Homo sapiens: one gene and its partners. The protein of the gene in region 1 interacts with the protein of each later gene in a pairwise test. Each region holds a gene or a part of one and is shown on either strand. Other genes may lie near its edges.

Region 1 (8,697 bases):
GAAAAAGACACTGTTATTACTGGTGGAATCAGAAGATGCTATAATTCTTTCAAGGGCACTCAAAACTTGGCAAAATTGTCAATGTGTACACTTTTTGGACAGCAACTCTACTTCTAAAATTTTACACTCCAGAAAGACTTGGACATGCTCACACCCAATGTTCTCTATTGTTGATAACAGTAAAAAATAAGAAACAATCCAAACAATTTGGGTGTAGCCAAATAATTTGTGGCACATTCTTTTTTTTTTTTTTTTTTTTTGAGACAGAGTCTCACTCTGTCGCCCGGGCTGGAGTGCAGTGGTGCGATGTCGGCTCACTGCAAGCTCCGCCTCCCAGGTTCACACCATTCTCCCGCCTCAGCCTCCCGAGTAGCTGGGACTACAGGCGCCTGCCACCACACCTGGGCAATTTTTTGTATTTTTAGTAGAGATGGGGTTTCACCGTGTTAGCCAGGATGGTCTCGATCTCCTGACCTTGTGATCTGCCCGCCTTGGCCTCCCAAAGTGCTGGGACGACAGGTGTGAGCCACCGTGCCCGGCCAGCACATTCTTATAATAAAATTGTGGGCCTAAGCCGGGCACGGTGGCTCATGCCTATAATCTCAGCACTTTCGGAGGCTGAGGCAGGTGGATCACTTGAGGTCAGGAGTTTGAGACCAGCCTGGCCAACATGATGAAACCCTGTCACTACTAAAAAATACAAAAATTAGCCAGGTGTGGTGGCACACGCCTGTAATCCCAGCTACTCAGAAGGCTGAGGCTTGAACCCAGCAGGCAGAGGTTGCAGTGAGCTGAGATTGTGCCACTGTATTCTAGCCTGGGCGACGGAGCAAGACTCTGTCTCAAAAAAAAACAAAAAACAAACAAACAAAAAAAACCAATTGTAGGCCAGGTACAGTGGCTCACACCTGTAATCCCAGCACTTTGGGAGGCCAAGGCAGGCAGATCACTTGACGCCAGGAGTTCGAGACCAGCCTGGCCAACATGGCAAAACCGCATTTCTACTAAAAATACAAAAATTAGCCCAGTATGTTGGCGTGCGCCTGTAATCTCAGCTACTCAGGAGGCTGAGGCATGCGAATTGCTTGAACCCAGGAGGCAGAGGTTGCAGTGAGCAGAAATTGCGCCACTGCACTCCAGCCTGGACAACAAAGTGAGACTATATCTCAAAAAATAAAAATAAAAATAAAAATAAAATTGTAAATAGCAATTAAAGACAGTGAGATAGCTGTATATGAACTAACCTGAAAGACTTCTGACATGCTTTAACACTGCGAAAGCAGGTTGCAGAATGATGTGTATGGTATTTCCCCCATATGATAAGACAAAGTGAAAATAAAAGAATAGGCCGGGCGTGGTGGCTCACGCCTGTCATCCCAGCACTTTGGGAGGCCGAGGCGGGCGGATCACGAGGTCAGGAGATGGAGACCACTCTGGCTAACACAGTGAAACCCCGTCTCTACTAAAAATACAAAAAATTAGCCTGGCATGGTGGCAGGAGCCTGTAGTCCCATCTATTCGTAGTCCCAGCTACTCAGAAGGCTGAGGCAGGACAATGGTGTGAACCCAGGAGGCAGAGCTTGCAGTGAGCCGAGATCGCACCACTGCACTCCAGCCTGGGCAACAGAGTCAGACTCCATCTCAAAAAAAAATAAAATAAAATAAAGTAATATATGTGTGTATTAAAAAAAAGAAAGAGGCCAGGTACGGTGGCTTATGCCTGTAATCCCAGCACTTTGGGAGGCCGAGTTGGGCAGATCACGAGGTCAAGAGATCGAGACTATCCTGGCCAACATGGTGAAACCCTGTTTCTACTAAAAATACAAAAATTAGTCGGGTGTGGTGGTGTGCGCCAGTTGTCCCAGATACTCAGGAGGCTGAGGCAGGATAATTGCTTGAACCCAGGAGGCAGAGGTTGCAGTGAGCTGAAATTGCACCACTGCTTTCTAGCCTGGGTGACAGAACAAGACCCCATCTCAAAGAAAAAAAAAATAGAAAAGAAAGAAAGAGATCTGGAAGGATACACCAAACTGTTCATAGTGGTTAAACCTGAAAAAGGGAATAGGATGACTGACTTGAATGAACTTGTCATTTTATAGGTTAAAAAAAGGTCAAATTGTGACAATTTCATATGGTACAATATAAAATTATATTAAATATACTCGAGATTTAATGAATTATTACAATGAGAATATATTCATGTATTACTTATGAACAAAATAAACAAAACACAGTTAAGAAGCAGCCCCCAGCATGCCTAAAATCTAGAGACATTTGAAGAAGGAGAAATAAGTCAAGTCCCCACTGATGCTAACTGCACTGGGCCTGAGCACATGGGCTGGACACAACAAGTTTAGGGGCCTGGCTCTCCCCTTCAGTTGCCTGCTAGACCTTGGCCCAGCTGCTTTACTTCTCGGGCTTTAACTGGGCACCTTACTCATGACCGCACTAATTCTCATAACACTACAGCTGGGAGCTGTCATCCATGTATTACAGATGAGGAAGGGTCTGGATTAGCTACCTTTTAAGTCAGATCTAATAATCCACAAACAGCTCAGCTGAGATCCTGGGATTCTGGGGCATCCGCGTGCACTTGAGATACAAGCTGTCCCACTGGCCCATGGCAACCTTCTTTCTAGTGAAACTCCCAGGGCGAGCGTGCTCCGCACACAGGAAGTGAAGGGGGAGCACCTGGCTTCCAATGATCACTCTGCGGCTCACCCACAGTGGGACCCCAGCATTTATCCCCCTTGGACTTCGGCTTCTTTCTTTGCACTGAGGAATAATAATAGTACCTGGCTCACAAGATGTTATAGTGTTTTAGTGTTTATAGGAAGCTGTGCACTTGATCCTCACAACGACCCTGGGAAGAGGATCGAGTAAGTAGAGCCTTCCCAGTCCACAGATACTGATACTAATCACTAATCATTGTGTAAAGGTTTTCCGTTTGCAACAGGCCATAAAATATATTATCTTACTTTAATTCTAAGAAAACAAGGGCGGAATCTCTGGTTTTCATCGGATTCTCAAAGATATACGTGTCCCCCAAGGAGTTCAGAGGTAGCCATGTTACGCAGATGCACGGCCCCCAGGGCTGTCGGACTCAAGTAACAGCTGTCAACAAACGTTCACACGCACGATCTCATGCAATCATCTTCACGGCGACCTACGGGGAGGAATTACCGCCCCAATTCACAACCGCGGAGACACACAGAGGAGGGCGGCCACCGCCCGGGGTCGCCCGGCCTCCGTCCCCTTCCCCAGGCCCTCCTGAAGCCTCTCTCCAGGCGAGGCCCGGACGTCCTACTCAGCTCGGGCCCCCGAGTGAACCCAGGCAGCGCTGGCCGGCGACGCCGGACTCGGAGACGTACCTGACGCGTCCCAGAAGCCGGGGTCCAAGCGCTCCCCGAACCCCCAGCAAGGACTCTGTAGCCCAGAGTTACCTTGACCCACCCGCCTCCTGCCGCCTGCCCGCCACGCGCATGCGCTGCCCCGCCCGGCCTCTACCACCGAGGAAAGGGGTAACCGGCGCGGGGGTTCCCAGCGCCAGCCTGCGCCAATCCCCAGAAACTCCGTGAATCACCTCGGGATAGCAAACGGATTATACAAAGGCAGTGTCTTCTGGGGTCCTTTTCATGCCTCTAGGACCAGGACCTGCATTCACCCTCTCCACTGACACATTGGTCTGGGCCCCCGGCCCGGCTGTCACCATAGAAACGGCATCTCGCGGACAACGCGGCGGCTCACGAAGGTTCCATTGTTATGCTAAACGGGAAAGTGGAGACCGCGCCGGCGTTGCCTAGAGAACGCCTGGACTCAGAGTAGCAAAATGGGCCTCTCCCCAACTCCCCTCCTCATCCCCCAGCACAAGGCAAAGGGCACCCCTTGCTGTGAGTTTGGGGGCACCGGCTGTCGGGGGCCGACCCAGAACTTTGCGGGGTCCCCTGAGGGACCCGTGGCGGGACCGGCCCCGGGTTCGTCAAATTCCGCCGATGCTTTCAGGTAAGACGGACGGACAGACGCACCATGACCCACCTCTGGCAGCCTGCCCCCTCCCCGTGCCGTTATGGCGGCTTCTACAAGCAAGGGAAGCTGAGGCCCAGGGACTACTTAAAGGTTGCATTGTGAGGAAGGGACAGAGAACTACTGGAGAATCAACTCCAGATCTCCTAGAGTCCTAAAAGCGTGTGTTATTGGTTCCGTCTGATAAGTGCAGAAACTTAGGCCGTTCAAGGAGTTTACCGGCTGCCTAGTGGGTGTATCAGGGCATCCAGTGAGGGGCAGGACCCAGGGGTCTTTGACTCCAAGCGCAGTTCTCTTCCAACTACACCACCCTGCATTAAAAGAGGGGAGACTTCCATGTCCTAGAACTAAAATCTTCACAATCTGGCTTAGCATTGTGCAATAGAAACATAAAGCAGGCCACATATGTGATTTGGAATTTTCTAGTAGCCACATTTTTTAAAAAGTAAAAAAGAAAGCCAAGTGAAATTAATTTGAGTAATGTTTTAAACTCCATATGTCCAAAACATTACTATTTCAAGATATAATCAGTATTTCTAAATTTGCACTGCTTCCATTTAAAAATTTAATTTTTTTTTTTTTTAAGACAGAGTCTCACTCTGTTGCCCAGGCTGGGATTGCAGTGGCATGATCTCGGCCTCCCGGGTTCAAGCGATTCTGCTGTGTTCACCTCCCAAGTAGCTGGAATTACAGGCACCCACCACCATGCCCGGCTAATTTTTTGTATTTTTAGTAGAGATGGCGTTTCACCATGTTGGCCAGGCTGGTCTCGAACTCCTGACCTCAGGTGATCTGCTTGACTCGGCCTCCCAAAGTGCTGGTATTACAGGTGCGGGCCACTGCGCCTGGCCAAAATTTGAATTAATTAAAATTAAAATTTTACTCTTGGCTGTTCTATCTATGGAGTAGCCATTCTTTTATTGCTTTACTTTAAAAAAATTTTACTTTTTTTTTTTTTCGAGACAGAGTCTCGCTCTGTCGCCCAGGCTGGAGTGCAGTGGCATGATCTTGGCTCACTGCAACCTCCGACTCCTGGGTTCACGCCATTCTCCTGCCTCCGCCTCCCAAGTAGCTGGGACTACAGGCGCCCGCCACCATGCCAGGCTAATTTTTTTTTTGGTATTTATTTATTTATTTATTTATTTATTTTAGATGGAGTCTCGCACTGTCGCCTAGGCTGGAGTGTGCAGTGGTACAATCTCAGCTCACTGCAAGCTCCGCCTCCTGGGTTCATGCCATTGTCCTGCCTCAGCCTCTCGAATAGCTGGGATTACAGGCGCCCGCCACCAAGCCCAGCTAATTTTTTTTTTTTTTTTTTTTTTTGGTATTTTTAGTAGAGATGGGGTTTCACCATGTTAGCCAGGGTGGTCTCGATCTCCTGACCTCATGATCCGCCTGCCTCGGCCTCCCAAAGTGCTGGGATTACAGGCGTGAGCCACCGCGCCCAGCCTTTTGTTTATTTTTTTGAGACAGGGTCTCATTCTGTCACCCAGGCTGGAGTGCAGTGACATCATCCCCACCTCCCAAAGTATTGGGATTACAGGTATGAGCCACTGCATTCAGCCTTAAAATTTTACTTATTCAGTCACATTAACCAAATTCCAAGGACTTAATTGTCACATGTAGCTAGTGCTATTTTGATGGCCAGCACAGTCTGGGCACTTCCTACCTTTCCAGCCTCACTTCCCGCTGCTTGGATGGTACATTTTGGATGGCATATTATTTCCGCTCCCCATTTTTTCTTTTTTTTTGAGACCGAGTTTTGCTCTTGTTGCCCAGGCTGGAGTGCAGTGGCGCGATCCGGCTCACTGCAAGCTCCGCCTCCTGGGTTCAAGCAATTCTCCTGCCTCAGCCTCCAGAGTAGCTGGGACAACAGGCGCCTGCCATCACACCCGGCTAGTTTTTTGTATTTTTAGTGGAGACGGGGTTTCACCGTGTTAGCCAGGATGGTCTGGATCTCCTGACCTCGTCATCCGCCTGCCTCGGCCTCCTAAAGTGGTGGGATTACAGGTGTGAGCCACCGCGCCCGGCCCTGCTCCCCTTTATCTAATTAACTTGTGCTCCTCCTTTAGCACCTTGATCTCCTTGTATGGTCAAAACACACTATTATGTCATCTTACAGTGTTGTTCCCTTTGAAGTAGTGATGACAGTTATAACTCATAATTATGATTTACGTAATTGACTCATTGTCCTGTCTCCTCCAGTAGATGTAAGCCCCTTGAGGGCAGGGACCAAGTCTGGTTTAGTTCACTTTCCTGTCCCGAGTATGAGCATGCTGCTTGCTTATGGTAGGTACTCAGTAAATAATCATTTCATCCACAGTCCTCAACCTTTTTGGCTTCAGGAACCAGTTTCATGGAAGACAATTTTTACACAGACCTGGGATGGGGGGGATGGTTTTGGGATGATTCAAGAGCATTACAGGCCGGGTGCGGTGGCTCATGCCTGTAATCCCAGCACTTTGGGAGGCTGAGACAGGCAGATCACGAGGTCAGGAGTTTGAGACCAGCCTGACCAACATGGTGAAACCCCATCTCTACTAAAAATACAAAAATTAGCCAGGCATGGTGGCGTGCACCTGTAATCCCAGCTACTTGAGAGGCCGAGGCAGGAGAATCACTTGAACCCAGGAGGCGGAGTTTGCACTGAGCCAAGATTGTGCCATTGCATTCCAGCCTGGGCAACAAGAGTGAAACTCTGTCTCAAAAAAAAAAAAAAAAGCATTACATTCATTGTGCACTTTATTTCTACTGTTATTACATTGTAACATATAATAAAATAATTCTACAACTCACCATAATGTAGAATCAGTGGGAGCCCTGAGCTTGTTTTCCTGGAACTAGACAGTCTATCTGGGAGTGCTGAGAGACAGTGACAGATCATCAGGCATTAGATTCTCATAAGGAGCACACAACCTAGGTCTCTTGCATGCACAGTTCATAATAGGGTTTGCACTCCTATGAGAATCTAATGTTGAAGCTCATCTGACAGAAGGCAGAGCTCAGGCAGTCATGTGAGGAATGGGGAGTGGCTGTAAATACAGACAAGCTTCTCTCACTCACCTGCCACTCACTTCCTGCTGTGTGGCCTGGTTCCTAACAGGCCACAGACCTACACCCATCCATGGCCCTGGGGTTGGGGACCCCTGATTGTATGACTGAGGGTTATACTAAAAAGTCTGTCAGATGCTAAAGTCAGCATTTTTTTTTTTTTTTTTTTTTGAGATGGAGTCTTGCTCTGTCACCCAGGCTGGAGTGAAGTGGTGTGATCTCGGCTCACTGCAAGCCCCGCCTCCCAGGTTCACGCCATTCTCCTGCCTCAGCCTCCCTGGTAGCTGGGACTACAGGAGCCCGCCACCACGCCAGGCTAATTTTTAGTAGAGACGGAGTTTCACCATGTTAGCCAGAATGGTCTCGATCTCCTGACCTCGTGATCCACCTGCCTCGGCTTCCCAAAGTGCTGGGATTATAGGCGTAAGCCACCACGCCCGACCTTTTTTTTTTTTTTCTTGAGATGGAGTCTCGCTCTGTCGCCCAGGCTGGAGTGCAGTGGCGTGATCTCGGCTCACTGCAAGCTCCGCCTCCTGGGTTCACGCCATTCTCCTGCCTCTGTCTCCCAAGTAGCTGGGACTGTAGGTGCCCGCCACCATGCCCGGCTAATTTTTTGTATTTTTTAGTAGAAACGGGGTTTCACCATGTTAGCCAGATGGTCTCGATCTCCTGACCTCATGATCTGCCTGCCTCGGCCTCCCAAAGTGCTGGGATTACAGGTGTGAGCCACTGCGCCTGGCCTAAAGTCAGCGTTGTTTTTATATGCTCAAATATATTAACTTTTTTGTTATTTTAATTTTTCTTTTTTTCATATCGCCTCTTCTGAGAAGCATCAAATATGTTAACTTTATTTATTTATTTTGAGACAGGGTCTTACTCTGTCTTTCAGGCTGGAATGCAGTGGCATGATCTCAGCTCACTGCAACCTCCACCTCCCAGGTTCAAGCGATTCTCCTGCCTCAGCCTCCCTAGTAGCTGGGATTACAGGGGCCTGCCACCATGCCCAGCTAATTTTTGTATTTTAGTAGAGATGGCGTTTCACCACGTTGGCCAGGCTGGTCTCGAACTCTTGACCTCATGATTCGCCTGCCTCGGCCTCCCAAAGTGCTGGGATTACAGGCGTGACCCACCACGCCCAGCCCAAATATGTTAACTTTAAACAGGGCATTTGAATCTTGACTGCCAGAATGTGTGCTCCATGAGGGCAGAAGGTTTCTTACTCTTCCACTCTTCTGCCCTGCCCCCAGCACATCATATTGCTTGCCACAGGGTAGATATTTAAGGAAGCTAGTTTTCTTCCCTCTCCTTTTATCCTCCCCAAGTAATGGCAGTAAAAACTTACCATGTTTCAGAGAATACCTAAAATGGTATGAAATATTCAGAAGGGGCTGGGAGTGGTGGTTCACGCCTGTAATCCCAGCACTTTGAGAGGCCAAGGTGGGTGGATCACCTGAGGTCAGGAGTTCGAGACCAGCCTGGCCAAAATGGTGAAACCCCATCTCTACTAAAAATACAAAAATTAGGCAGTTGTGGGTGGCAGGTACCTGTAGTCGCAGCTACACGGGAGGCTTGAATCCAGGATGTCAAGGCTGCAGTGAGTGAGCCAAGATCGCGCCACTGCAC
Region 2 (7,842 bases), on another chromosome or scaffold:
TCAGGATTCCTGGGGAGGAATCAGAACACCTGTTTGGAACCAAAAGCTGATTCTCAGCTAGAGCCTCAGTAAATGGCAACTTGCAGAAGTGCTCTTTGCTTTACAGAGGAAGATGAAGCCCAGAGACACGATGTGACCTGTGTGGAGGTGTGGAGTGAGGCAGCCGTGGAGCTGCAGTGCCTTACCTCAGAGCCTGCGGGCACTGGACCTGCACCATCCCCCTGTCCTTGTCTTGGAAGAAACTCTCCAGGTCCTCCTCATCTTCAGAGAGGTTTTCATCACTCTCTGGGTCAGACTGAAAGAGAGACTCCAACAGACACCATCTCCCTTTCTGCTTCAGTTCCTGTAAGTTCTGGTAAATGCTCCCAGTTGAGTCAGAAGTAGAATCTATCTCCTCCTCTGGGCTGAGGAACTCGTCAAGTTTGCTGGCCCTGGGCAAAACCAGCCCATCCCCGGACAGCTCCTCTCCTGCCTCTGTGTCTGCGAAGGACTCGGGGGGAAATATCTAAAATAGAATAGAAATAGGCTGTGGGTCAAACAATAATTTCAAAGGTATTCAAATCATAACTTAATTTCGCTTTGAATAAGCTTCTGTATATTAGGGACTGGGGAGAATTTGGGGTCTGCCAGATGCACTGGCTCACACCTGTAATCCCAACACTTTGGGAGGAATTTTTAAAAATAAGGTGTGTTTCTTGGTCTAAAGAAATTTCACAACTTGGTCTATGAAGTGCGCTTGGTTGAAGGGATGGAGAGGGAAGTGAAGAGCTGAAGTTGGTTCCCTATGCCATACAGTGCAGTAAGCTTTTACAGAGTACCTCACCTACACCAGGCTTTCTGACCCCTGCACTCCAGGAATCCTGCCCATGATGATGGCCACACTCTCCCTTACTTGGGTTTTAACCTACTTCTTGCTCATCTTCCTTCTCTCCCTTCCCTTATTTCTACTCCTCTGCTTTCCTCATGTTCTAGCTAATTTGCACTCTGTCAAGGAATGGATGATGGCTGGGTGCAGTGGCTCATGCCTGTAATCCCAGCATTTTGGGAGGCCGAGGGAGGTGGATCACCTGAGGTCAGGAGTTCAAGACCAGCTTGACCAACATGGTGAAATCCCGTCTCTACAAAAATACAAAAATTAGTTGGGCGTGGTGGCGGGTGCCTGTAATCTCAGCTACTGGGGAGGCTGAGGCAGGAGAATCGCTTGAACCCGGGAGGCGGAGGTGGCAGTGAGATGAGATTGCGCCACTGCACTCCAGCCTGGGCAACAAGAGTGATGCTCCGTCTCAAAAAAAAAAAAAAAAAAAGGAATGGATGATTAACAAGACAGACAGTATGGTCTGGCTGGAAGAGCAATGTCTTAAGAAGTGGGACACACAATTAACTTTTTCAGTACTCCATTCATTCATAAAATATTTACTGGGTGCCTGATGTGCACTGGGCATTTGGCTGAGAACAAGACAAACAAGGTCCTTACTCTCATGAAGCTTACACTGTAGTAAGAGGAGACAGACAATATAAGATGATGATAAATTCTGTGAAAACCATAAACAACTGTGAGGTTATAAAAAGATGGAGTGCCTATGGAAAGCTTTTTGGTTGATAAAGTCCATCAGATTAAGGTTATTAGGAATGTACTTGTAATCAGTACATCAGTTAGGCTTATTAACTTGCTGCAGGACACTACGGAAAACCACAGGGAACTTAGGGTTGAGGGTGTGATTTTTATAGGGTTGGCTTCCCTGATTGATTCAGGGAACCAGGTATCAACTCTGGAATGGTGCTGTCATGAAGTGGGGACAATTTAGTTAAGCGAATGACTGAGCAATTTTTTTTTTTTGAGACAGGTTCTTGCTCTGTCACCCAGGTTCTGGAGTGCAGTGGTGCAATCATGCCTCACTGCAGCCTGAACCTCCTGAGCTCAGGTGATGATCCTCCCACCTCAGCCTCCCGAGTAGCTGGGACTACAGCACACACCATCACACCTGGCTAGTTTTTGTATTTTTTGTACAGATGGGGTTTCACCATGCTTCCCAGGCTGGTCTCCAACTCCTGAGCTCAAATGATCCGCCTGCCTTGGCCTCCCAAAGTGCTGGGATTACAGGCGTGAGCCATTGGGCCCCGCCCAACGGCAATACTTATTCAAAAGGTGAGAAGAATAAAGTAGGGTGGGTAAGTAATTGATCAGTAAGCCTTTTGGAAGAAGGGGTGTTAGTAATTTTGCACCTATGTTATGGCCCTGAGAGAAACACTGTTTCCTGATGCTCTTGCCGTTGGCATTATCTATGCCTATGACAGTCTGAGTTATACTTTCTCAGTCCTGGGCTGATTTTTATTTTTCATTGTGGAGGAATTTTGAATTGACACTTGATTGATGAGGAGCCAGGCTTACTAAAATCCAGGGTAAGAGTCAGAGATATGTATGCACCCTAGCCCTGGCTCTGCTACAGTGTGTGATCTTGGGCACGTTTTTTCTTTTCTTTTAAAGACAACTTTATTAAGACATAATTTCTATACAATATATTCACTCATTTAAAGTGTACAATTCAGTGGTTTTAGTATATACACAGAGTTGTGCAACTACCATCACAATTTTAGAACACCTTCATCGCCCTTAAAAGAAATGCCACACGCTTTAGTGGTCACTCCCTATTTCCCCTAACCCTCCACACCCCACCCCACCAGCCCTAAGCAACTGCCAATCTACTTTTTGCCTTTAATAGTTTGGGGTCCACCAGGTGCACTGGCTCACGCCTGTAATCCCAGCACTTTGGGAGGCCTTGGCTGGTGGATCACTGGAGGCACGCGCCACCACACCTGGCTAATTTTTTTTTTTTTTTGAGACGGAGTCTCGCTCTGTCGCCAGGCTAGAGTGCAGTGGTGCAATCTTGGCTCACTGCAACCTCCACCTCCCGGGTTCAAGTGATTCTCCTGCCTCAGCCTCCCGAGTAGCTAGGACTACAGGCGCGCACCACCATGCCCAGATAATTTTTTGTATTTTTTTGTTTGTTTGTTTTTGTTTTTGAGAGAGTTTTGCTCTTGTTGCCCAGGCTGGAGTGCAATGGCACAATCTCGGCTCACTGCAACCTCCACCTCCCAGGTTCAAGCAATTCTCTTGCCTCAGCCTCCCGAGTAGCTGGGATTACAGGCATGTGCCACCACGTCCAGCTAATTTTGTATTTTTTTTAGTAGAGACAGGGTTTCTCCATGTTGGTCAGGCTGGTCTTGAACTCCTGACCTCAGGTCCCAAAGTGCTGCATTACAGGAGTAAGCCACCGCACCCGGCCAATTTTTGTATTTTTAGTAGAGACGGGGTTTTGCCATGGAAACCAGCCTGGTCTCGATCTCTTGACCTCATGATCCGCTTTCCTTGGCCTCCCAAAGTGCTGGGATTACAGGCGTGAGCCAGCGCGCCTGGCCAATTTTTTTTTTTTTTTTAAATTTTTAGACGGAGTTTCACCATGTTGGCCAGGCTGGTCTCGAACTCCTGACCTCAGGTGATCCACCCGCCTCGGCCTCCCAAAGTGCTAGGATTACAGGCGTGAACCACCACGCCCGGCCAAATTTGGGGAGCAATTTTCTTAATCTCTTTGTGCCTCAGTTTTCTCTTCTACAAAAATGAGACGACAATTGTACTACTGGTCATAGAGTACTAAGAGGATAAGCGAAAACTGAGTGACATTGCCTATCAAGAGCCTCGTATAAAGTCCGAGAGGTTCAGGTCTGTAAGTCAGAGTCCGCCTCCTGGTCCCTAAACGCTCATTTTAATCCCACGCCCCTCCGTGACACGCCCCTGCTGTCTGTCTCCAAGGCAACGCCCAACAGTTTCCTCTCCGGGATTCCTTTCCCGGGGGCAGTCTCTTTTCTCTCCTCACCTGACGGCTCCCCTCCGCGCCTCCGGGGGCTCCCTCAGGCCTCCCCACGGTCATTTCAGCTGGACAGAGGCAGCAGCGACAGTGACAGCGATAGTGGCAGCAGCGGTGGCAGCGAGAGCTATGCGGGGCCAGGGTCCACCCCTTTCTAGCTTTGGCGTCTGGTTGGCTTCCAGGGCAGCCTCCGATCCATCCCGCCCGAGGAGGCAAGGTTCGTTTTCCGATTGGCCTATTTTCTCCGCGCATTTTATTTCCGGTTCTGAGGACGCCGCGGAAGCGGGACGGGATTGGAGTGCTCTGCTCCGGACGCACTACGTAGGTGGGCCTGCGGGAGTTCTGAGTGCGACGGCGCAGGTCTGCACCATGGCGGCCCGGCTTGTCAGCCGATGCGGGGCTGTGCGTGCAGCTCCCCACAGCGGCCCGCTGGTGTCCTGGCGCAGGTGGTCCGGCGCCTCAACAGACACCGTGTATGACGTGGTGGTGTCGGGTGGAGGCCTGGTGGGCGCTGCCATGGCCTGTGCCTTGGGTAAGCCCTTCTCCAGGCTACTAGTGGCCGGAAACCGGGCCGCGGAGGCACGATGAGAGCCGTGAGAGCCCTAGCACGACTTGCCCAAAGACAATTTCTCAGGTCTCGCGACGCTTCTCCCCTCCCCTCCTAGAGGAACCCCAGGGCACGCCGGAATGCGTGTGGTCCTTCAGGGTCCATTAGGGTCAAAAGTGGGAGGGGCGTTCAGAGTCTGTTCTACTCATGGGAAAACAGGCCTTCCCGGGGTTATTTATAAATGAGAGTTCCAGTTTCTCCAGATCCTGGACAGTACTTGTCATTGTCTTTTTGTTTATAGACATTCTAGTGGGTGTAAGTAAAGTGGGATCTCCAGGTTTTGACTTGTATTTCCCTAATGATTAATGATGTTGAATATCCTTTCATATGTTTATTGGTCATTTGTATATCTTCTTTAGAGAAATGCCTATTCAGACCCTTTGCCCGGTTTTTAATTGAGCAGTTTGTCTCTTGAATACTGTGGTAAGAGTTATTTTTATTTTTTGAGACAGGGTCTTCCGCTGTGCCCAGGCTGCAGTGCAGTGGCACGATCACGGCTCACTGTAGCCTCAACCTCCCTGGCTGAATTGATCCTCCTGCCTCTGCCTCCCAAATAGCTGGGACTGCAGGAATGCGCCACCACTCGGCTGATTTTTGTATTTTTTTGTAGAGACGAGGTCTCACTATGTTGCCCAGGCTGGTCTGGAACTTCTGGGCTCAAGCAATCCACCTGCCTCAGCCTCCCAAAGTGCTGGGATTACCGGCATAAGCAACCCTGCCTGGCCATTATTTTGTTTATTCTGTATAAGTCCCTTATCTGATAAATGACTTGCAAATATTTTCTTCCATTTTGTAGTCTTTTCACTTTTTTTTTTTTCCCTGAGATGGAGTTTCGCTCTTGTTGCCCAGGATGGAGTACAATGGCACGATCTCAGCTCACTGCAACCTCTGGGATTACAGGCTTGTGCCACCATGCCTGGCTAATTTTTGTATTTTTAGTAGAGACGGGGTTTCACCATATTGGCCAGGCTGGTCTCGAACTCCTGATCTCGTGATCCACCTGCCCCTTCCTCCCAAAGTGCTGGGATTACAGGCATGAATCACCATGCTTGGCCCATTATGAGATTTTTTTTTTGTGATTTTTTTTTTTTTTTTAGCTCATCAGCTATCATTAATATTAGTGTTTTTTTATATGTGACCCAAGACAATTCTTCCACTGTGGCCTGGGGAAGCCAAAAGATTGGACACCCTGATCTAAGGGCAGCTGTTCCACCCTATGATCCTCATCTCACAAGATACACAAAATTTAACTTAAAGCAGATCATAGACTTCTGTAACAGGGTGGTTCTCATGGCTGCTTGGGAGGCTGAGGCAGGAGAATCGCTTGAAACTGGAAGGGGGAGGTTGCAGTGAGCTGAGATCGCGCCACTGCACTCCAGCCTGGGCAACAAGAGCGAAACTCGATATCTCAAAAAAAAAAAAAAAAAAAAAAGAAGATAGTGCCCTTTACAGAGCATGCTCTACAGAGCATGTCCCTGTGCCCCATCCTCCACAGCAAAAGCTGCCAAGATGGACCGCTCACTGTCTGTATGGCTGGAGCTAACTTTTTTTTTTTTTTTTTTTTTTTTTGAGACAGAGTCTCTGCTCTGTCACCCAGGCTGGAGTGCAGTGGCAGGATCCCAGCTCACTGCAACCTCTGCCTCCCAGGTTCCAGTGATTCTCCTGCCTCAGCCTTCTGAGGAGCTGGGACCACAGGCGCCCGCCATCACACCTGGCTAATTTTTGTGTTTTTAGTAGAGATGGGGTTTCACCATGTTGCCCACGCTGGTCTTGAACTCCTGAGCTCAACTGATCCATCACCTCAGTCTCCCAAAGTGCTGGGATTATAGGTGTGACCCACTGTGCCTGACCTTTCTTTCTTTTCTTTTCTTTTTTGTAGTTTTTGAGACAGGGTTTTGCTCTGTCCCCCAGGTAGGACTGCAGTTGCACAAACATAGCTCAGGTGTGCCACCATGCCTGGCTAGTTAAAAAAAATTTTTTTTTGTAGAGACAGGGTCTCGCCATGTTGCCCAGGCTGGTCTTGAATTCCTAGGCTTGAGCAATCCTCCCACCTCGGCCTCCCAAAATGCTGAGATTACAGGCGTTAGCCACCATGCCTGGCTCACGTTTTCTTTTATAAACTCTAATTCTTTCTTTTTGAGACAGAATTTTGCTCTTGTTGCCCTGGCTGGAGTGCAGTGGTGCAATCTCCTCCTCCCAGGATCAAGCGATTCTCCTGCCTCAGCCTCCCAAGTAGCTGGGATTACAGGTGCCCGCCATCACACCTGGCTAATTTTTTTGTATTTTTAGTAGAGACGGGTTTCACCATGTTGGCTAGGCTGGTCTTGAACTCCTGACCTCAGGTGATCTGTCCACCTCGGCCTTCAAAGTGCTGGGATTACAGGTGTGAGCCACCGCACCGGCCTTTATAAACTCTAATTCTTTATTCTTGGTTTAATCTTGAGACTGCATTGAATTTTGCTTGTTTATTCCACTTTTTCTTTTGAACAGGAGTTGTAATTTTTAGTGACTTAATACTCTGGAGATTGAAAAGAACTGGTGTTTAAATACTGTAGTCTAACTTTTTTACTTCATTTTTCCTTTCTAGGGCATTCTGTTTGCTAGTTAGGTGTTTGCCATTATTTGCTTCTTGGCACGTGGCATGTAGTGGTCTTTGGAGAAGTCTTACAGTTGTGGGCAGGGTGGTTCTCATAGCTAAAATGGTGGTATATGTTATTGCTTAGGACTCTGCATGGGTATAGTGTTTATGTTCTCTGTAAGAAATTCATATTCTAAGGGTTAAGTGGTTACTCTGTTGTTTCTCTTGGTAATGGGAAAGGAAATTCTTGATTTTCCTAAGATGATATAAATTTTCTTTTTTTAAGGATATGATATTCACTTTCATGACAAGAAAATCCTGTTGCTCGAAGCAGGTCCAAAGAAAGTACTGGAGAAATTGTCAGAAACTTACAGCAACAGGGTCAGCTCCATTTCCCCTGGCTCTGCAACGCTTCTCAGTAGTGAGTAGAAGATCCTCCTTCAAAGATCCAATCTCCTTTCCCACTTAGCTTTCTAGTGTATCCCATGGGGCAGAGTCATCAGAGCATCTGACAAGGAGGGAGCTCACTGAGGTGGGTGGAGAGAGGGGGTGGGATTGGTAGTCTAGGGCAGAGTTGAAGATGTGGACCCCTGCAGTTGCTACTGCCTCAACTCCCTGTCTGAGGAATGCATCCTTGAGGCATGTGGGTCCATCATGTTGACTTCACTTGTGATGTTGTGTCATTATGAATTGGTGGAACTGAAATCATATGAACTAATCATGAACATTCACTTTGAATAGCAGGGCTCTCTTCATCCTGAGTCAAGCCTTCTAGCAAGCTAGGGAGCTTACAC
Region 3 (7,994 bases), on another chromosome or scaffold:
GATCTACAAGGCCTTGGTTCCATCTCCCACCCTCCTGTATGAGATGACCCATCTGGCATGTGTGGCCTGTGGCCCCGAACACTAAACGCAGCTAGGAATGGAAGGATATCGGTTCTGCAGGAGCCAGGCCACGCCCAGAGTGTAGTACAGCTTGACCAGAGCTTCCAGGATTTCCTCTTTCTCCTTATTTGAGGTCGTATTTGCCTTCCAGGTCAACAGTGTATTCTTGGCTGATGTAGCATGTTTCTTGGCCTGAACTGGGAGGCCTGGGGGAGTTAGAGGGTGAGGAGCAAGAAGACAGACATTAAAAAGGCATGCTTCAGTCAAAAACATTCCTGGGAGGGGATAAAGTGGGCAGTGCAGTTGTCGTATGGTCTATAGCATTGGTTCCTAAATCTGGCTGTGAATCAGAATTATTGGAAATGCTTGTAAAGAATACAGGTTCCTGGGCCCCACTCAAGACCTACTGAGTGGGGAATCTCTAGAGAATTGGGGTCCAGGAATCTCTAATTTTAATCTGCACCACAAGTGGTTCTTATTCAGCCCTCTCAACATTAGCCTTCGTACCTCAGTTTGGAACTCAAGACAGAGACAGGAATGGAAGGTGAGTATCCTATTCCTGATTCTACTACTAATGCCATGTGACCTTTTCAACCCACAACGCTTCTCCATCCTCCAACTGTTGAACAACAATAATAATTATAGAAGCTGACCCTTACCAAACACACAGAGATAGTCCAGGACCAAAGTAGGTTATGCCATAGAATGCTGTGCATTGAGTGTTCTGGAAAAGGCATTCTATAAATACAAGGGCTTATGAATGCAATTACTTCCATCTGGGGATTTTTTTTTTCAATCTAAGATGAATCTGGTGATACTAACTGGTCACACAACACACATAAAAAGAAAGCAATTGCTAAATGCAGGGAGGCCCCAAACTAAGAAGACAAAGGCAAGGCCAGACCCCAGCTAGACAGAACTGGTGGGGTTTTTCCCCTTGTTTTTTCTTTTCTTTTCTTTTTAAAGATTTAAAAATACAAACCTGTGTCCAGGGCTGACTTTCCATAGACTGCAGTGAGGGAGCTGCTCTGCTACATACAAAACCCTAACCCAGAAGCAGGTTATCTAATGATTTAGCACCAGGTTCCCCTCAAATATGCATTGCATGAAGGGTGAAAGGGCATCCCCCTTTCCAGCCACATCTCATTTGTCCCCTTGTTTTTTGCTGGTGTTCCTGGGCACTTACTCAAGCTGCTATTTGTCCAGTCAACAGAGGTAGACTTGGGAAGACTGAAAACAACAGGTAGGGTTCACTTTCAGCCCTCTCTCTGCAGGTACCTAGGGGCTGGTAAACACATTCACCCCTGCCAAGTAGGCCACTGTGCCCCTAATCCTCACTTCACACCACCAGCCCCAGTCCTACTCAGCAAGCTGCCTTTGGCTCCTGAAGCCTAGTTTCACAGAATGGGTGCAAGTCAATGGCAATAAGGATAAATTTAAAAGTTTGTCTTTGATACCTGCAGCCCTCATGTGTTCTAAGTGCACCTCCTGAATGAGTTATAGCAATGAAAGGGAACATGGTCTTCCCTGGGAGAGTTCTAAAGGTGACCCAGGTCCCTTCTCCCTTTTGCAACCATTATATAAGCAGCAGTCGTCAAAATAAAGTTCAGTTCTTTTGTGACTTCTGACCAAAGCAAGAACCATAAAAAAGCATTTCAAATGCACCTTTCCAAATTCACAAGATTATGTCTTCCCTCTTTCCAAAGAGCTGAGACAAAAGTACAATGCTTGATCCATGCCCCCCAAATAGGATGATGAAGTTCAGATTGTGCAAGGACACTATAAAGGTCAGCAAACTGGCAAAGTAATCCAGGTTTACCAGAAGAAATACAGCATCTGGCTGGGCGTGGTGGCTCACGCCTGTAATCCCAGCACTTTGGGAGGCCAAGGTGGGCGAATCACAAGGTCAGGAGATTGAGACTACCCTGGCCAACATGGTGAAACCCCATCTCTACTAAAAATACAAAAATTAGTTGGGCATGGTGGTGTGCACCTGAAGTCCCAGCTACTAGAGAGGCTGAGGCAGGGGAATCACTTGAACCTGGGAGGCAGAGGCTGCAGTGAGCTGAGATCGCACCACTGCACTCCAGCCTGGCGACAGAGTGAGACTGTTTCAAAAAAAAAAGGGCATCTATACTGACAGGGTGCAGTGGGAAAAGGCTAACGGCACAACTATCCATGTGGGCATTGACCCCAACAAGGCAGCTATCACTAGGCTAAAACTGGAAAAGAACAGAAAAAGATCCTTGAGCAGAAAGCCAAATCTCACCTAGTAGGAAAGAAAAATAGTAGATATGAGGAAGAAACATTCGAGAAGATGTAGGGGGAAAGTATCCCTATATACACCTTTCATTAAAAACTGCAAAAATAAAAATAAATAAAAGTGATCCAGAGACAAGAAGTCTCTGCAGAATACTCAGAAATATCTGTTCCATAGGTTTCAACTAAAGAGAAAAATGGACTCTGGAGAGGGCTGTGTCCTAAGTTAAGGGTGGCCTTCAAATTGCACTGTGCATTATAAGCACCCTATTAAAATGCAGATTCCTGTCCCACACTTCCAGTAGTTACAGCTCACAAGTTCTGGAATAAGAACCAAGAATACACATTTAAAACAAGCAACCATGTTTCAGGTGGTAACCAAGGATTCCCATTTGTAAGAACTAATCTTGGTAATAATGCAAGGTTGTCTGAGGACCACACTTGGAGAAATACATAGTTAGTAAAATCTTTATCGAAGAAGTAGGACTCATCTTGTTTTTCAAGAGTGGATAGGATTTTGACTGATACAAGGAGGGATTTCCCCTTGGATTAAATAGCTTGAGGCCTTGAAGACAGAACAAGCAAGTGTGTGTATGTATGTGTGCTGCACTGGGGGATGAGGTTGGGTGGATACAGGATGGTTAGGGAAGGTAGAAAGATGACTGAAGGGAAACTCTGAATTGAAAAACGTATAAGCAGCCCGGGCACAGTGGCTCACGCCTGTAATCCCAGCACTTTGGGAGGCCGAGGCGGGCGGATCACGAGGTCAGGAGATCAAGACCATCCTGGCTAACACAGTGAAACCCTGTCTCTACTAAAAAAAAATACAAAAAATTAGCCAGGCGTGGTGGCGGGCGCCTGTAGTCCCAGCTACTCTGGAGGTTGAGGCAGGAAAATGGCATGAACCTGGGTGGCAGAGCTTGCAGTGAGCCGAGATCACGCTACTGCACTCCAGCCTGGACAACAGAGTGAGATTCCGTCTCAAAAAAAAAAAAAAAAAAAAAGAAGAAGAAAAGAAAAGAAAAGAAAAAAAAGAAAAACGTATAAGCTATGCATTGAATATGTAAAAAATCTTGGATGATGTCTTAATTTGTATGTCAGGTATAAAATACCTGAGACCAGGTAATTTATAAAGAACAGAAATTTCTCACAGTTCTGGAGGCTGAAAAGTCTAAGATGAAGACGCCAGCTTCTTGTGAGGGACCTCTTGCTGCATCCACATATGATGAAAAACGGAAGAGAAAAAGAACCAAACACCACAAAAAGCCTCTTTTATAACGGCCTTAATCCCATTCATGAGGGAGGGGCCCTCATAGCCTAATCACCTCTGAAAGGCCCCACCTCTTGATGCTATCACAGTGGCAACACCTGAACTTTGGAGTGGACATGCTCGAACCATAGCAGATGCCCAGATGAGGAGGGGGAATTAGATCTGTTATGTAACAGGGAGTCTTCACAGGTCTGGAGGAAGAAGGCAGCATCACTAGTTAGGTCACAGAAAACTCTGCTTCGGATACTGGAAGCCGAGATGGCTACTTTAGACCAAGAAAACAAAGTAGAAAACTGAGAAAGTGTTTTGATCAAGCAGGTCATTTTCCACAAGTAGGTGGGCCGTTAGGAGTGTGTCATTAAGGACTATAAAAACCAAATTCAGACAGTTCCCTGGGTCCTTAGGAAGAAGAAAGGTGAAACTGCAGGAGCTACTAAAAACCACCCCAAATGAGCGGACACTCCTTCTGGGCTTGTGAATGTCAAATAAAACAACTACCACTCAAGAAAGTTGTTCTGAGGCAGTCCCTGAGGCTTTTGAAAGCCTGCACCCTCCCTGCAAAATATCCCATGCTGGTTGTGCAATTCCCAGGAGGAATACTTTTCCTCTCTGCTCAGCAGCTAATCAATCATAGAGTTCCTTGCTTTCACACGACTAGGCCCCACATTGTGGGCCTTCTGATGGAAAAGCTGAGCCACAAGGGGCTTAAGCAAACTGAACAAGGATCTTGATTTAAAACAATTTATTATATTTTAAGCCCTAAAGGGAAAAAACTTCTTTCACCTTCCCAGAATCCTCTCTGATCTCCAAAGTGGAGTGCATGAACTCTACAGGTATGCAAGATGCCGTAAGAGTGTGAGGGGGAAATCAAAACTTCTCTATTTTTTTTTTATCTGAAGCCTTTTTCTATTTTTATTACTATTTATAATATTACATAACACATCAATACTGTTGTACACAATCTATTTAAAATACATGTATAAAAAGTAATTGATTGTTTGCTTAAGTTTCTTTTAGTGATAAGGGAGCTGTCTCTTGAGTTTGGAGACCACTGGCCTAGACAAATGTTTTCCAACCTTTTCAAGTATGAAAGAGCTCTTTTTATATTTTAAAAAAACCACAAGGCTTCCTCCACTTGTGATAATTATTTTCATAGCACATACTACTTGAAAAAATTCATAATGACAAAAGTACTATGAATTCAGTATCAGCAACACTTTGAAATGAATTTACATTTACTAAGTCTAAGTACGTCCTCTTTCATGTAAAAACTCTCTGTATATAAGATTTATTATTGTATATATCTATGAAGGATGCTTCATAGATCAAGTTACTTTTCTGTATCTGCCCTCCCAAGCCAAGGATACCACCCTTCTACCTGCACTGACAGTGCAGCAGTTTTCAAGGTACAAGGCAGAGGGGCAGCAAGGCCTGCTTCTGGAGCCCAAGATTCAGAAATTACAAGGAAATATTGATGAGATGGCAAAATGAGTCCAAAGATTGTCCAACAAACATATCAATCATTTTGCTTTAGTTTGGGTTGGGATTCTATCATCGATTCTGCTACACTGACTCAGGCCAGAGAAAATCTGCTCAGAGCTACCCAATCTTTGGAGGTTGTTATTGTCACCAGAAAGCAGTCACCTTTGATCAGCATCTATATTTAAGCAGTTACTGTGGCACGGTAATTAAAAGAGCAGGGTCTAGAGCCAGACTTTCCAGGTATAAATCCTTGTTTAGTCATTATGACTTGAACATCCTTATGACTTGAAAAAGTTACTTTATCTGTGCCTGTTTATTCACCTACAAAATGGTAATGAAAATATATCCTGTAGAGTTGTCGCAAGGATTAATTTAATATAAAAAAAGGATTAAATAGTACCTGAATGAAGTGAGTTTGAAGATATATTAGCCATTATTATTATTATTACCAAGGTCCATTTCTCTTATTGAGTAATTTACTATATTTGTACTTATTTTCAACATTTTTCATAGCACTGTTTACAGAATCTTTGTAAAAGGCTTGCATTCTCAAATGCAGACTCACTTCAGGTAGGTATCAGGCTTCTTGTGGGTCAGATTACCCGGTTTTTATCATTCCCTGTTGTTTCTGTACCAGTTTTTGTGTCTTTGTTTTAACCAACTAGACAAAGAAAGCATGACTTAGGCTTCTTTTTCTGGATTTTGCAACATTTGTAACAGAGCCCCAGTACCTGGAAGATTCCCAGTAATAATAGGCTGACTAAAGTACTGTTTCATTAATAAGCAGAATTTCAGAAAACTGCTTGTCCACGTTACCATATTTTCCTTCCTGAACACTTGAAAACAGTTCACCACTAGTTACCAAACTACCATGGTGATCTCCGACTGCCCTTTCTCAGCTGCTGGATCACTAGGCTCATTAGGATCATCACCAGGGCAGTGGGCCATAGAGGTCCACTTCTAGTGTCACTTGTTCTGTTTAACAAGCGAACCAACTTTTATACACTCTGCTTTGCAAAAGCCTCACATTCTCTTGTGAATCCCATTCCATCAATTACTCCATTAAAAACATCTTTAAACCCTCTCTTCTAACTGGCTCCTTCCTCTTTGCCTAAAATCTTCCTGCATCTCCTTCTCTTGTAAAATCATCTTCACTAGCCTCCGGTCCCTATTGCTTCCCTTCATCCCTGGGATCTGGCTTCTCCTCCAACCACTATGGGGAAACTGTTCTTCTGAGGTCCCCTCAAAAACATCCTAATAAATGAATCCAACTGCAGTTTTTCAGTCCGCATTTCACTGCAGCATCAGATACCCTTACCTGTTTGGCTCCCAAGGCACTGCACCAACCTGCTTCTCCTTTATAAACCTTCTGTAATTGATTCTTTGCTAACTCTTTATCAAGGTCCTTTGTTCTCTACCATTAATGTGTCCATTTTCCAAATCTTTCTGTTTCTTCCACTTCTCTCTTTCCCTCTTGGAAGTTTTATCAACTCCTATTACTTCAACCTTGGCTTCCATGCTTATAATTTACCATTTCCCCTCTTTAGTTCTGGTCTCAAACATTCCTCCATGCTTATGCCTTTCCTTCTCTCCTCCCAAGTTCTGGTCCCAAATTTCCAGCACAAGTGAAAATGTATTACAGGTTGAGTATCCCTTATCCAAAATGCTTGGGACCAGAAGTGTTTCAGATTTCAGATTTTGTTCTGGATGGGGGGAGGTTTTTGGATTATTTGCAGATAACCAGTTGAACATCTCTGAAATCTGAAAATCTGAAATCCAAAATGTTCCAGTGAGCATTTCCTTTAAGCGTCACATCAGCATTCAAAAAGTTTTAGATTTTGGAACATTTTGGATTTCAGATTTTCAGATTAGCGATTCTCAACTTGTGGATTCTCTATTGCAATTCAAAATCTATACATCAAAAACTGGACTCAGCATTCCTCTCCCAGTCCACTTCCTTTCTGACCTACTTCTCTCTGAAAATGGCAATTTCAGGGGCCCAAAACATCATGGTCATCTTTGGGCCTCACTGTCACTCAACCCCAAATCGAACACCATGTCCTGCCTACTCCTTCTTAATGGTCTCTGTCTTTTAATAATCATTTTTGAATAGGTAACACATTTCTATCGTTGAAAAGTTAAAAATTATAAGAAAAAGTAAACACTGAGAGGTCTCACTTCCAATCTTGTTCCCTTTGTCCCCAACCACCCTCTAAGTAACTTTTTTTGTTTCATTCTTGTGTACCCTTTGGTGTTTTTTATATAAAAATAAGCCTACATTCTCATTTCTTACTCCCTCTTACACAAAAAGAGGCGTATTATAAACACCATACTGCATTGTGCATTCTCTTTTCCCTAAAGAGATCTTTCCCTAGAAGGATATAGAGATTCCTCATGTTCTTTTTAAAACTCCATATATCCCACTGTGTGTATGTACTAGTTTCCTATTGATGGATACTTGCTTGTTTCCAATCTTTTCCTATCATGAATGATGCTGCAAAGAATAATCTTGTCCATGTTATCAGTGTGTATTTAGGAAAGATTCCCAGAAGTGGGTTTCTGGTTTAAAAATAAGTGTATCTGTCGTTCGTAGACTCTTGAATCCTTACCTTCTCACCCATTCTCTCTGGCAGCCTAGTTTTAGACCTAGATGACTGAGATGGCTTCCATTCCATCACTGCTAGATTAACCCTGCCAAAAGTACACTTTGATATTTTTATCATCCTGCTGGAAAATCTCCACTAGTGCTCTTTGCCTATCAAATAAATTACAAATTCCTTAGCCTGTATTTAAAACCACACCATGGCCTGCCCAATGTACCCTTCTCCTTTCCAGGTTTATCTTACCAGTCCTAACCTTAGCCTGCCCAATGTACCCTTCTCCTTTCCAGGTTCATCTTACCAGTCCTAACCTTAGCCTGCCC
Region 4 (7,994 bases), on another chromosome or scaffold:
GTTTTCTTAATATGTTAAGATAAATTTACTAGGGAGTAGAAAATATATGAATGGTCCATTGAGAGTCACTTGGCTAATATACCATTTTCCACCCACAGCATCTTTTCCCCCCAGCAACCAGTAGCAAAGATGTCCAAATCCCACTGAGGACAGGGTATGAGTGCATGCTTTACACAGGCTTGAAAATCCAAGTCTAATCCTCTTTTGGTTACCTCAAGCTTAAGACCTAGACAAATCCCTACCTGTAGAACTCAGTTATCCATCTACAAGCCAAGGAGGGTGGCAAGTCGCGTCTGGCCCTGTGCGTTACTACTCCGGGTTTCTTCACTGCCCTCCTTCAGCAGCTCCCCAAGCCCTGAAACTTCCCATTCCCTCTCCTTTTGAGAGGGAATTTACTTTTAGCAGCTGCATCTGCAACTTTTATCTACTACTCACTGCAATGGCTTACTTCTCCTTTTGGCCTCTAGTAAGAGGGTTGAGGGTTTAGGGCTGTCCATATTATTAATAGCGAATTCATGACAGAAAGAGCAGATGGAAGAAGCTTTTCTCTGCACCATGTCTTGATCCCTCCACAGATGTCATTTTGCTGCTTTTTCACATCTGTTGACCTTTGGATTTCTGGTCTACTCAAATTTTGAGTGCTATGAAAAATGAACTCTTGTATTCCTTCTGTATTCCACCAGATTTAAACTCAGGTATTTTTGGATCATCCATTCCTGAATCTGGCTTAACATGATACACACCTTGCCCCACTCATACTAGATGACCTAACAACCTAAGTGACACTCACTCTCACAGAGCCTGGCATGAAGTAGGAGCCCAAAAATACTTACTGAATGAATGAATGCTAATGGCTATGTTTTAAACACTTCCAGGTAATATTTTGGACTGTAAAAATCCCTTCTGAATACAAAAACTTTAGCCAGTTACTCTAAAATTAAAAGACAGATGAAATCGATGATTTAGGGCATTCCATGGGTCATTCATGTGATCATCACTGCACTGAGAGATGTATCTGAAAAAAGGGGCAAAATGCACCATCACTACTATTATTCAACATAGCACTGGAAGTCCTAGCTAGAGCAATCAGGCAAGAGAAAGATATAATGGGCATCCAAATTTCAAAGTAAGAAGTCAAATTATCCTTGTTTGCAGATGACACGATCTTATATTTGGAAAAATCTAGACTCCACAAGAAAAGTCTTAGAACTGCAAAACAAATTCAGTAAAGTTGCAGGATACAAAATCAACATACAAAAACCAATAGCATTTCTATATGCTTACACTGAACAACGTGAAAAAGAAATTTAAAAAGTTATCCCATTTACAATAGCCATAAATAAAATTACCTAGGAATTAACCAAAGAAGTGAAAGATCTCTACAATGAAAACCATAAAACACTGATGAAAGAAATTGAAGAGGACATCAAAAAATTGAAACATATTCCATGTTCTTGGATTGGAAGAATCAATATTATTAAAACTTCTATACTACCCAAAGCAATCTACAGACAAAACGCAATCCCTATGAAAATACCAATAACATTCTTCACAGAAACAGAAAAAACAGTTGCTCATGCCTATAATCCCAGAACTTTGGGAGGCCAAGGTGGGTGGATCACTTGAGACTAGGAGTTCGACACCAGCCTGGGCAACATAGGGAAACCCCGTCTCTATTAAAAATACAAAAATTAGCTGAGGGTGGCAGTACACACCTGTGGTCCCAGCTACTTGGGAGGCTGAGGCAGGAGAACTGCTTGAACCTAACCTGGGAGGCAGAGGTTGCGGGGAGCTGAGATCCTGTAACTGCATTCCACCTTGGGCAACATACACTCCAGGCTGGACAACTGAGTGAGACCCTGTCTCAAAATAAAATGAAATAAAAGAAAATAAGAAAAGAAAAGAAAAAACAATCCTAAAATTTGTATGGAACCACAAAAGATTCAGAATAGCCAAAGCTATTCTAAGCAAAAATAACAAATCTGGAGGAATCACATTACCTAACTTCGAATTATACTACAGAGCTATAGTACCTCAAACAGCATGGTACTGGCATAAAAACAGACACATAAACCAATGAAAAAGAATAGAGAACCCAGAAACAAATCTACACACTTACAGTGAACTCGTTTTTGACAAAGGAGCCAAGAACATGCACTGGGGAAAAGACAGTCTCTTCAATATATGATGCTGGGAAAACTGGATATCCATATGCAAAAGAATGAAAATAGACCCTATCTTTCATCATATGCAAAAATCAAATCAAAATAGATCCAAGACTTAAATCTAAGACCTCAAACTATGAAACTACTACAAGAAACATTGGGGAAAAATCTCTAGGACATTGGACTGGGCAAAGATTTCTTGAGCAATACCCTATAAGCACGGGCAACCAAAGCAAAAATGGACAAATGGGATCATATCAAGTTAAAAAGCTTCTGCACAGCAAAAGATACAATCAACAAAGTGAAGAGACAACCCACAGAATGGGAGAAAATATTTGCAAACTATCCCTCTGAAAAGAGATTAATAACCAGAATATATAAGGAGCTCAAACAACTCCATAAGAAAAAAATCCAATATTCCAATCAAAAAATGGACAAAAGATTTCAACAGACATTTCTCAAAAGAACACATACAAATGGCAAACAGGCATATGAAAAGGTGCCCAACATCACAGATCATCAGAGAAATGCAGATCAAAACTACAGTGAGATATCATTTCACCCCAGTTAAAATTGCTTATATCTAAAAGACAGGCAATAACAAATCTTGGTGAGGATGCAGAGAAAAGGGAACCCTTGTACACTGTTTGTGGGAATGTAATACAACCACTATGGAGAACAGTTTGGAGGTTCCTCAAAAAACTAAAAATAGAGCTACCATAAGATCCAGCAATCCCACTGCTGAGTATAGGCCCAAAAGAAAGGAAATCAGTATATTGAAGAGATAGCTAAACTCCTATGTTTGTTGTAGTGCTGTTTACAACAGCTAAGATTTGGAAGCAACCTAAGTGTCCATCAACAGATGAATGGATAAAGAAAATGTGGTACACATGCACAATGGAGTATTATTCAGCTATAACAAAGAATGAAATCCAGTCATTTATAACACTATGGATGGAACTGGAGGTCATTATGTTAAGTGAAATAAGCCAGGCACAGAAAGACAAACATTGCATGTTCTCACTAGTTTGTGGGATCTAAAAATCAAAACAATTGAACTCATGGAGATAGAGAAGGATGGTTACCAGAGGCTGGGAAGGATAGTGGGGGGTTGGGGGTGGAGGTGGGGACAGTTAATGGGTACCAAAAAAAAAAAAAAGAATGAATGAATAAGACCTACTATTTGATAGCACAACAGGATGACTATAGTCAATAATTACAGGCGTGTGCCACCATGCCCGGCTAATTTTTGTATTTTTAGTAGAGTTGGGTTTCACCATGTTGGCCAGACCAGTCTTGAACTCCTGACCTCAGGTAATACACCCACCTCAGCCTCCCAAAGTGCTGGAATTACAGACATGAGCCACTGCGCCCGGCCAATTTTTTTATTTTTTGTGGAAATAAGGTCCCACTATGTTGCCCAGGCTGGTCTCAAACTCCTGGCCTCAAGTGATCAAAGTGCTGGGATTATAGGTGTGAGCCACTGTGCCCAGCCAAATAACAGCAATTCTTAATGTTTACACTCTTAGAAGTATCAGAAGCACTGAAAATATAACTGAGGAATTATAGTAACATTATAAATATATAATAGCTCTTGTTCTAAGAGCTGTAGCTCTAGGGAGGGAGACTATTTAGTATATTTTTGCTTTAGAGGTAAGGAATGTCTTGGTTTGTGAAACTAAAAGCATCTGCCAAGCTTCTGATTATATAACACTATAGATCATCTCCAGAGGATCACTCTTGGGTACTCCCATACAAATCTTCCCTCTGTGTAAGTGCACAGTAGTGGGTAGTCTATCAGGGCACAGACTCAGAGTATCCTACGATGGAAAACCACAATGAAAAGGGATACAGAGGCAACCACAGTACCAGATTGAGTAGATTGAGTACAGTAAAGACCAGGGGTCTGAAAACCGAGGGTCACCATGGGTCTGGGTCAGGAAGTGCCTTATAAGTCCAGGTGATCAGACCCCAGTGATCAGAATACCAGGCAAGGAAACAGACAATAAAGAAGAGAGTAGAGAGGGCCGGGCATGGTGGCTCATGCCTGTAATCCTAATACTTTGGGTAGCTGAGGTGAGTGGATCACTTGAGTCCAAGAGTTCAAAACCACCCTGCGCAACATGACGAAACCCCCATCTCTACAAAAAATACAAAAAAATTAGCTGGGCACAGTGGCGCGTGCCTATAGTCTCAGCTACTTGAGAGGCTGAGGTGGGAGGATCACTTTGGGCTCAGGAGGTGGAGGTTGTAGTCATGATCATGCCACTGCACTCCAGCCTGGATGACAGAGCAAGACCCTGTCTCAAAAAATGACAACCGAAAAACCCCCCAGGGAACCCAAGCACACATGCAGCACAGGTAGAGACTACAGCAGCAGGGGGAAAGCCCAACTTTACCAAAGATTCCTTGGCACAGGGGCTTTTGAAGAACTTCCTGCCAACAGCAAGGGTGAGGTTAATACCTAAAGTTCAGTAACATAATCTCCTTTGTTACTTCCATTCTAATTGAGAAGCAAGCACAGAACATTAGAACATAGTTCTCAAGCACACACTGTATTATTCAATGATATGTAATATATTGCCAAGACTTAAAGTTACAACTACTCTGTATATCCTCTTAAGACTAATTTACTTTAAATTAGCATTCTTAAATCTATTTTAATGTACCAACTTTGGATTCTGTTTGTGTGTTTTCTGATTTCATTACCTGAATTGCTGGTCTAGCTTTTCAGCCACAAAATCCTGCCTCTCTTTTTCATTCTTCTCTTTTAGTAATTTAGTTTTCTCTCTCATCCTATCTTTTTTCTCCTCAATGGTTTCTTTCTTCAATTGCATTTCTGTAAAATACTCATTTTCTTCTAATGCTAAAAGCTCACGTAGCCTGAAACAAAAAGCCAAAAAAAAAAAAAAAAAAAGAAAACTGTCATGCTACATGCATCGTTATATTCAATTTCAGAACTATAGGTCTAATTTGTAAGAAAAGAAAGATCACTGCAGTCTTCCACAGAATAAGACTGGTTGGTTTGTTTTTTTGTTTTTGTTTTTGTTTTTGTTTTGAGACAGGATCTCGCTCTGTCACCCAGGCTGGAGTGCAGTGTGATCATGGCTCACTGCAGCCTTGACCTCCTGGGCTCAGGTGATCCTCCCACCTCAGCCTCCTTGAACAGCTGGGACTACAGGCAGGTGCCCCTATGCCCAGCTGTTTTTTTATTTTTTGTAGAGATGGGGTCTCACTGTGTTGCCCAGGCTGGTCTCAAACTCCTGGGCTCAAACAATCCTCCCACCTCAGCCTCCCAAAGTGGTAGGATTATAGGTATGACCCACTAAGCCCAACCAACTGCACCATATTTTATTTGATCACATACAAATAAGATACGAAATATATATTTTTAACAAAAGAGTAAAATGAACAGGTTTCAATCAAAATAATGAAATATGAAACAATATATTGTTTTTCATCAAAATACAGGCTATCACAAATAAAAATATTAAAAATATTAACCAGCAATAGCTATGGATTTAATATAAACATCTCAGCCATGATCCTTGCTAAATTTGATTTTTGACTGGTCAATCTCAAATTGTGGTTTTAGGAATATTTCATGGTTTATGTCCCAGGTTTGTGAGCCTTACTTATTTCGTCTTTCTTCAATGTTAATGATAAACCCTTGCACAGCATCCTTGATTCTTGCTCGCACAAGGCTGTCCAAAATCTTGCAGTCATTGTGCTGGTCCCACTCAGCTTTCAAGCGATCCCGCTCACTTGACTTAATGGAAGCCAAAATAGCATTATGCTTCTGATGGCTGCGTCGGATTCTTTCTAGATGGTGCTCAGCTCCTTGGCCTTTAGGAGGCTTGGATCTCTGAAAACAAAAACCAACTATCACTTATAATAAGCCAAAGAATCAACTGCATATTTTCAATTAGTTATGCTCTCAATCAATACTCATACTAAATAAAATTGGGTATAAAAAACTAATACATCCTACTACAACTGAATACAGCTTATGCACCTAAAGAGTAACTTGTTTCATTCTCTGAGCCTATACCTAAGATGTCATCAAAACAGTCTCAAATATTTCTAATGTGCCATTTGAAAAATAGTTGATGGAAATTACAAAGTTAAAAATGTGAACAGGACTCTGTTGAGATTGTCTAGTCAAACCCAGAGACATTAAGTGATTTGCTGAACTTGCTTCAAATAGGGCAGATAAAACAAGAATTAGAGGTCTTCTAATTCCCGACCTTGACATTGCCACTCATTATTCCACATTATTTCTCACGGTTGGACACCATAGTTATCACATCAAAATACTTTCAATGAAAAGGTGCTACTATGCGAATATATAGAAAAAATATACATGTGTGTATATACATGTATATGTGTGTGTGTATATATATGTGTATATGTATATGGATATATAACGAGTTGTGATAATGAAAGATCTTTGACTAAGAAGGAAGAAATGAAGTGAGGGAGGAAGAGAGGAGGGAAAAGAAAAAAAGCTGGTGGTAGAACTTTATTCCTATTTCTATGGTGCCCAGAAGTTTTAATGCAAAGAGTGTGTTCCTGACCTTTTGGGCTACTTTGAATTTCTATAAATGTACTGTTTTTACAGAAATGTCCACTAAAAAAGTTAGAAATGCATGTACCATTTGAATATATATAGATACACTTAATGAAATCACATAGCCTATATCTTTTTCCTTTCTGTATTCCTAGCATTGAACATAATGCCTACTACAGTGAGGTCCTCAATAGAAATGAATGAATGAATGAGTGAATGAATGAAACAATGTTGCTGGGTGGGCTTGATGCAATTTCTGCACCTCCTGGAGCCACCATAAAATCCATAGTCTTGAGCTTTGTATTTTCAGGAACAGTTTTATCAAGTCATCCTTAGGTAAGTTGTGAGATACTGGGGTGCTGATTCACAGAAACAAAACTCTTAAGAGACAGAGAGTCAATCTGATCTTTTACATTTAGAATATCACCATCAGGATTACCAGAATACTAGGGTTAGGTGTTTGTAATGAAGTCTCCTGAGGAAAGAAAATCAACATTTGAAGACAGTTTAATGAAAAGATTCAGGGCTCAGGGTACACATATAGGTACCTAGATTTAGCTGAACAAGATAAGGCAAGCCTGGGGTGGTAAGGAGACAGAAGATGATGCTGGGGGTTATATCATGGAAAGTAGCTAATCCATGTCATAATTATCTGGAGCCTAGAGCCAGCTAATTAGATGACTGTTCTCCAATACAGTTGGCATTTTATGAATATAGATCTGTGAAAATAAAGCAGAGGAGGATCACAGTGGCACCCTTGGCAGCATACACAGCAGGAATTAAGGGTCCCAGTGTGAGCTGAGAACAGGAATGAAACACCAAGTAAATCTAGAAACACTGGCTCCAGTTGTCAGGACAGGAAACAGGGCTGAGGGATATTTTGGCTGAAGAGGTGACAAATACCATGAGCAGTACCCAAGGGGTCAGGAAGCCTTTTAAGGCTTGGGAATCATGTGAAGGACTCTGGTCTGGGAAGGACCCAATCTCTTGATAAGTTAGGGGTATGACCTGGAGTTCTCAAAAAAGGTGATGCCAATCCCAGCACAGTCGTGGTATTGTTCAAAGTCTGTACTGTTCAATATAAATATAATGCAAAACAGATATGTAATTCTAAATTTTCAAGTGGCTGCATTTAAAAAAGTAAAAAGAAACAGGGGAAGTTAATTTTGATAGTATATTTTATTTAACCAATATATCCAAGATGTTATCTTGTCAATATGTGACTCTAGGCACATTTCAAGTGCTCAAATGCTATGTGT

The links.
Region 2: the proteins of CBY1 (region 1) and FAM161B interact in binary tests that used the Homo sapiens proteins (3 or more experiments, as listed by UniProt).
Region 3: the proteins of CBY1 (region 1) and TTC23L interact in binary tests that used the Homo sapiens proteins (3 or more experiments, as listed by UniProt).
Region 4: the proteins of CBY1 (region 1) and CFAP53 interact in binary tests that used the Homo sapiens proteins (3 or more experiments, as listed by UniProt).

Annotation. Positions count from the first base shown.
Region 1 is NC_000022.11:38,651,425-38,660,121, reverse strand, and holds the start of CBY1 (protein chibby homolog 1), read right to left. Parts: upstream 3,485-8,697; 5' UTR 3,372-3,484; intron 1-3,371. UniProt on the Homo sapiens protein: Inhibits the Wnt/Wingless pathway by binding to CTNNB1/beta-catenin and inhibiting beta-catenin-mediated transcriptional activation through competition with TCF/LEF transcription factors.
Region 2 is NC_000014.9:73,946,101-73,953,942, forward strand, and holds the start of FAM161B (protein FAM161B), read right to left. Parts: upstream 3,993-7,842; 5' UTR 3,927-3,992; coding exon 3,873-3,926; exon of another isoform or gene 3,818-3,872; intron 506-3,817; coding exon 186-505; intron 1-185. Other genes in the region: COQ6 (ubiquinone biosynthesis monooxygenase COQ6, mitochondrial), read left to right, coding at 4,233-4,395, 7,335-7,469.
Region 3 is NC_000005.10:34,855,170-34,863,163, reverse strand, and holds part of TTC23L (tetratricopeptide repeat protein 23-like), read right to left. Parts: intron 267-7,994; coding exon 110-266; intron 1-109.
Region 4 is NC_000018.10:50,256,190-50,264,183, forward strand, and holds part of CFAP53 (cilia- and flagella-associated protein 53), read right to left. Parts: intron 6,031-7,994; coding exon 5,801-6,030; intron 5,049-5,800; coding exon 4,875-5,048; intron 1,888-4,874; exon of another isoform or gene 1,716-1,887; intron 1,016-1,715; exon of another isoform or gene 1-1,015. UniProt on the Homo sapiens protein: Microtubule inner protein (MIP) part of the dynein-decorated doublet microtubules (DMTs) in cilia axoneme, which is required for motile cilia beating.